Regions from separate parts of the Homo sapiens genome. Here region 2 is linked to region 1. Evidence: fine-mapped expression QTL. A gene starts in region 1. The other region holds a variant in brackets. All regions are shown on one strand. Distances are from middle to middle.

What was found.
Region 2: its variant is fine-mapped to the expression of LINC01987 in vagina (GTEx, PIP above 0.99).

Annotation. Positions count from the first base shown.
Region 1 is chr17:77,727,440-77,730,355 of GRCh38, reverse strand. LINC01987 (long intergenic non-protein coding RNA 1987) reads left to right here and starts at 1,797. Exons shown (of 2, transcript NR_104134.1): 1 at 1,797-1,946.
Region 2 is chr17:76,854,358-76,857,273 of GRCh38, reverse strand. It overlaps LINC00868 (long intergenic non-protein coding RNA 868), which reads right to left and starts at 1,108. Exons shown (of 2, transcript NR_135284.1): 1 at 1,010-1,108. The variant T/C (reference allele first, on the strand shown) is at 1,533.

The DNA of each region.
Region 1 (2,916 bases):
ACTAAACTTATGATCTTTGTCATTTACTGGTTTGTTTCTATGAACTGCTTTTCTTCTGGCTGTAGAGCCTAGTTCCTGCTTCTTTGCATGTCTGCTAATTTTTAATTGGATGCCAGACATTGTTAATTCCTCTAATTATTCCTTTAAATATATTCGTACTCTTTTTCTAGTTCATAGTTAAGTTACTTGGAAACAATCTGATTTTTCTTCAAGTATTACTTTTAAGCTTTGTTTCACACGTTTAGAACAACCTTTAGTCTAGGGCTAATTTAGTCCCTCTTCTGAAGCAATGCCTTTCTGAGGACTCTGCTTGGTATTTCCTGGGTGAGGAGGTCTTTCCACTGGCTGTTGGGCATGTAAGATATTCTCCAGCCTTTGTGAGCTCCTGGGGTTCTTCTATCTGCTACTTTCCTTTTCCACAGCCTTAGTAATTTTCTCATATGCATGCACTGATCAATATTCAGCCGAAGGCCTTAAGTGAGTCGTCTGCAGATCTCTAGAGTCCTCTCTTTCTGTGTGCAGCTCTCTCCTCTCCAGGGCTCTGCCCTACAAATGTTAGCTGCCTTGGCCTCCCCACACCCTAAACACTATCTCCTTAATTCAGTGAAGCCACTGAACACTGTGTGGTTTCCACTTACCTGTATGGTGGCGTGGAAACTCTCTCCAGGTTGTCAGCTGGGGCACTTGTGGGTCTCACCTCATTTGCTTCTCCTCTGTCAGAGATTACACTTCTGTGACACCTGCGGTCCAATGTCTGAAAATTGTTGTATATAGTTGGTCTATTTTTAGTTATTTAGGGTGGAATAATAAATGCTTACTCCATCATGGCCAAAGTCTCTGTTGTTTACAGTTCAATGGAGAGAGATACCAACTACATACAAATTGAAATGCAAAGTGCCATAATATCTTTAGAGCAGTAAAGGCAAGCTGTTAGAATTGCTCACAGGAAGAGAAAATTATTTCTACCTCTTGGTTAAGGCTTTTATCACCAAGAAGGCAGCATCCCTACCACACCAACTATATACCCCTAACTCTACATCTCCAGCCCAGATTCTCTCTCTCCTGAATTCTGGACCCCTACACATAACAAAACATTTGAATCATCTCCACCCGGGTATGTCACCAGCACCCCAAACTCCACATACCCAAAACCGAATGCACTCATGTTCTTTCCAAATCATATGGCTTCAGATCCTTCTCTGACATGAGCTAGTGGCTCTTTAAAACTTAGTAAGTTGTCTCCTTCAGCAGAAAACAGTCCCTAACTTCTCCAGCCTTTCTCCACCTTTACCACTGCAGCCCCAGCCTACGCTGGATCAGTCACCATCGTCCTTGTTGTACCCTGTGCCTGTGTTTGGCTACCATCACTTGGGATTTTGTGAGCCCCTTGAGGGACGTCGTGTTCCTTCTATGTGTGTTTTGGGTTGTTCGGGTGCTTAACACATAACAGGGGTTCAATCAACTGTCCTTAAATAAATGGTTCCCTTACAATAGTGATTGACAGATAGGAATTGGATGACCATATGACTCTGTTGCATGGGAAAGAAAAAAAATGAACCTGAGAACATTCTTGGGATTAATCCCTTAAACAAGGGGTCAGCAAACTTTGTCTTAAAGGGACAGATAGTAAATCTTGTAGGCTTTGTGAGCCACACTGCTGTTGCAGCTTGCAAGCAGCAGTGTACTGTACACAAACAAATGGGCATGGCTGTGCTCCAATGATGCCATTTACAAAACAGGCAGAGGGCTGGGTCTGGGCTTCCCCTGCCCTAACCTAAGCCCAGCTGGGCTTCATTCAGCACGCTGTGTACCACTCTTGATGGGTAGGCCCACTCTGCCCGCACCTTGAAACCTGACCAGGTCTTCTCCCACCCCATGAATGTAAACATTTTAACAACTAGCCTGACTGTGAAAAGCCTGGAGAATCCTTCCTACAGGGGACAGTGGTGAGTAGAAAGATTATCGTCAGGTGGCGCCTGTCCTTTTGTGACATCTGTTGCTAATGGAAGCTCTGTGTGTGTGTGTGTGTGTGTGTGTCCAGACATGCTCAGGAAAACTGCCTAAGCTCTCTGGGCTTCAGATGTTTCATCTGTTGAGGGAACGATCGGGGTTTGTTCCTGCTCCCCAGGCAATGTGTTTGGTTTCTGTCTTCTGTTTTTTATGGCATATTCTCCCCACCACACTCTCACCATGCTCTCCGGTTGTCGCTGCCAAGGATTGCAGAGTCCGAGGCGTGGGCAGGAGCCCCGTCCAGGGTCGATCTCCTGAACTCACGGAGCCGTGGGAATAGACAAGAGACACTATCTGGGAAAATGCTTTGAAAATAAATAAAATGGGGAAAGTCTAGTCCAGATAAAATGTAAAATATTTAGACTTGAGAACAGGTTTCCAGCTCACTGTGGAAGACACTCGGGGCTGGGGGAGGCCTGGGTCCCTCCCTCTGCCCTTCACATCAGTTTGGTCATCTTCAAATGGGAACCATCCCTGTGCTGACCCTGTGGCCTCACCAGGGCTCGAGGTCCAGGGCTATGAATGCCTGTTGTAAACAGCTCAGGGCGGGACACATGGAAACAATTAGAGACTTATTTCCCAGGACATTGGACCTAGAAGCCAGGCCCCAAGACATGAAGCAACGCTTCTGTGTGTGTGTGTGTGTGTGTGTGTGTGTGTGTGTGTGTGTGAGAGAGAGAGAGAGAGAGAGAGAGAGAGAGAGAGAAAGGGATTCTGGGAAGGGTGGAAGGAAGTGGTGAGACACGAAACGAAGCTGGACAACAGAGAAGACTCTGACTAGAGATTTTTACCATGAGATGGAGATAGTTGCAGAGGCTCCTGGCTGCCCTCCATGCTCCTGTCCCTCTCTGGCCCCTCAGCTTCCCTCCGGCCTTTCCATTGTTCTTGCAGGTTGCGGCCTCCCTG
Region 2 (2,916 bases), 870 kb after region 1:
TGCAGGATCTCAGGCCGTGGCGGAGGTGCCTCCCAAGACCACCTTGAAATCCGTCCCTGTCTAGCAAGATTTTATGGTGTCCAGTTCCAGGTGGGAGCTTGCCACACTGAGACAGCCATGACCTTCCCATCTTCAACAGAAGGGAAGTAGATGGGGGGTGTGGCAGATGGACCCCTTTGTTGGTCCATCTCTGCTCCAGCCTCCATGGCTGTATAGAGGATGCCGTGGGAGAGCCGTGGCCCCTGCTTTGTCCTCTGAGAGATTTGAGGAGAAGGTGGGGATGGACACATGCACCCCCTCAAGCTAGGAGGAGGAATTTAATCTATTGCCCACTGAGGCCTCCCAAGTGTCCCAAACAGCATCTAACATGAGCCGCATGTGACATGAGCCGCATTTGACAGAGGGGTTTTCACTGAATGGATGAATGAGTGTGGGGACGAGGCAGGGGACGGTGGGGATTCAAAGGACCCCAGTCCCTAAGCCCAGCCCGACATGGTGGTCAGCCAAGGCTGTTTCCTTCCACCTTGCCCTCTGTGCCCACTGCACTGTGCATGCCCCCTCTTCTCGTGAACCATTCACCCCACACCTCCAGCCCATGCCAGGCAAAGAGTGTCTGCCTCACACCGCCTCCTACTCTCCATGTTCCTCCACCGGCTCCTCTGTGCAGCTCCCTGACACTGAACATCACCGTAGGGGCAGCTTCCCGAAACTTCCCGATTCATCTCAGACTCTTCTCAGCCTGCATTTCATCATCCACTAGGTGTTCATCCACACAGCCACCCCCAGGGCCGGCCCAGCCCCTTTCCCTGCCTGTCAGGGACAGGTAGCACATGGGGTGAGGGTCTCGCCTGGGCAACCCTGGAAGCACAGCGGTGCCTGCAAGATGGGCCAGGCTCTTCTCAGCTTCCTCGCTCACTGTGAGACCCCGGAGCCCAATGGGCCTTGAGTCCTGCCTCCCCTTCCCGATCCAGACCTTGGCAAATCACCCTCCAAGCCTCAGTTTCCTCACCTCCAAATTGAAGATCGCACCTGCGGACTTCTCATGGGGCCTGACACAGAGCTGGCTTCTGTTTGTGGCTTATGTGTCTACTAAATTATAAGCTCCTGAGGACGAGATTCAGGCACAGAGAAACAAAATCATTTTATCATTAGCTTCCATTTCTTTAACACCCACCTTGTACCAGGCAAACATCTCATCAGTTCATACAAATAACCATGTGAGAGCCTGATCCTGTCTTATAGGCAAACACTGAGGCCCAAAAAATGAAGTAACTTCACGGCTAAGTGCATCTCCAAGAGAAATGAAAACACATATCCACATAGGAGCTTGTACATGCATGTTCATAGCAGCATGACTCTCTCTTTTTTTCTTTTTTTTTAGATGGAGTTTTGCTCTTTTGCCCAGGCTGGAGTGCAATGGCATGATCTCTGCTCACTGCAACCTCTGCCTCCCGGGTTCAAGTGATTCTCCTGCCTCAGCCTCCCAAGTAGCTGGGATTACAGGCATGTGCCACCATGCCCGGCTAATTTTG[T/C]ATTTCTAGTAGAAACGGGGTTTCTCCATGTTGGTCAGGTGGTCTTGAAGTCCTGACCTCAGGTGATCCGCCCGCCTCAGCCTCCCAAAGTGCTGGGATTACAGGCATGAGCCACCGCGCCGGGCCAGCATCACAACTCTTAACCAAAAAGTGGAAGTAATTCAAGTTTTTCATCAATGGATGCATGAATAAACAAAACGTGATTTATCCATGTGATGAAATATTATTCAGCCTTAAAAAGGAATTATTCTCAAAAAAACTAAAATAGAATTACCATATGATTCAGCAATTCTACTTCTAGGTATAAACCCAAAAGAGTTGCAACTAGAGTCTCAAAGAGGTATCTCTTCACCCATGTTCATACAGCGTTACTCACAACAGCCAAAGGGGGAAACAACCCAAGTGTCCATCAGCAAATGAAGAAATAAACAAACTGTGGTATGTCCCTACAGTGGAATATTATTCAGCCTTAAAAAGGAAGGAATTTGGCCGGGCATGGTGGCTCACGCCTGTAATCCCAACACTTTGGGAGACCAAGGCAGGTGGATCCCAAGGTCAGGAGATCAAGAACATCCTGGCTAACATGGTGAAACCCTGTCTCTACTAAAAATACAAAAAATTAGCTGGGCATGGTGGCACACGCCTGTAATCCCAGCTACTCGGGAGGCTGAGGCAGGAGAATTGCTTGAACCCAGAAGGTAGAGGTTGCAATAAGCCAAGATCACACCACTGCATTCCAGCCTGGGCAACAGAGTGAGACTCCATCTCAAAAAAAAAAAAAAAAGGAAGGAATTTATGTCTGGGTGCGGTGGCTCATGCCTGTAATTCCAGCACTTTAGCACTTTAGGAGGCCAAGGCAGGCAGATCACCTGAGGTCAGTAGTTCGAGACCAGCCTGACCAATATGGTGAAACCCTGTCTGTACTAAAAATACAAAAATTAGCCAGGTGTGCTGGAGTGCACCTGTAGTCCCAGCTACACAGGAGGCTGAGACAGGAGAATTGCTTGAACCAGGGAGGCGGAGGTTGCAGTTGAGTCCATATTGTGCCACTGCACTCAAGCCTGGGCGACAGAGCGAGACCATGTCTCTGCCTCAAAAAAAAAAAAGGGAATTTCTGACACATGCTGCAACATAGACAAACCTTCAAACCTTGAAGACATTATGCTGAGTGAAATAAGTCATGCACAAAAAGACAAATACTATGGGATTCCACTTATATGAGGTTCCAAAATAGTCAAACTCAGGGAGAAAGAAAGTAGAACGAGGGTTCCCAAGGGCTAGAGGGAGGAGAGAATGCAGAGTGGTTTGTTGGGTATAGAGTTTTGTGGGGTTTTTTCATTTTGTTTTGTTTTGAGACAGGGTCTCTCTCTCTCTCTCTCTGTTG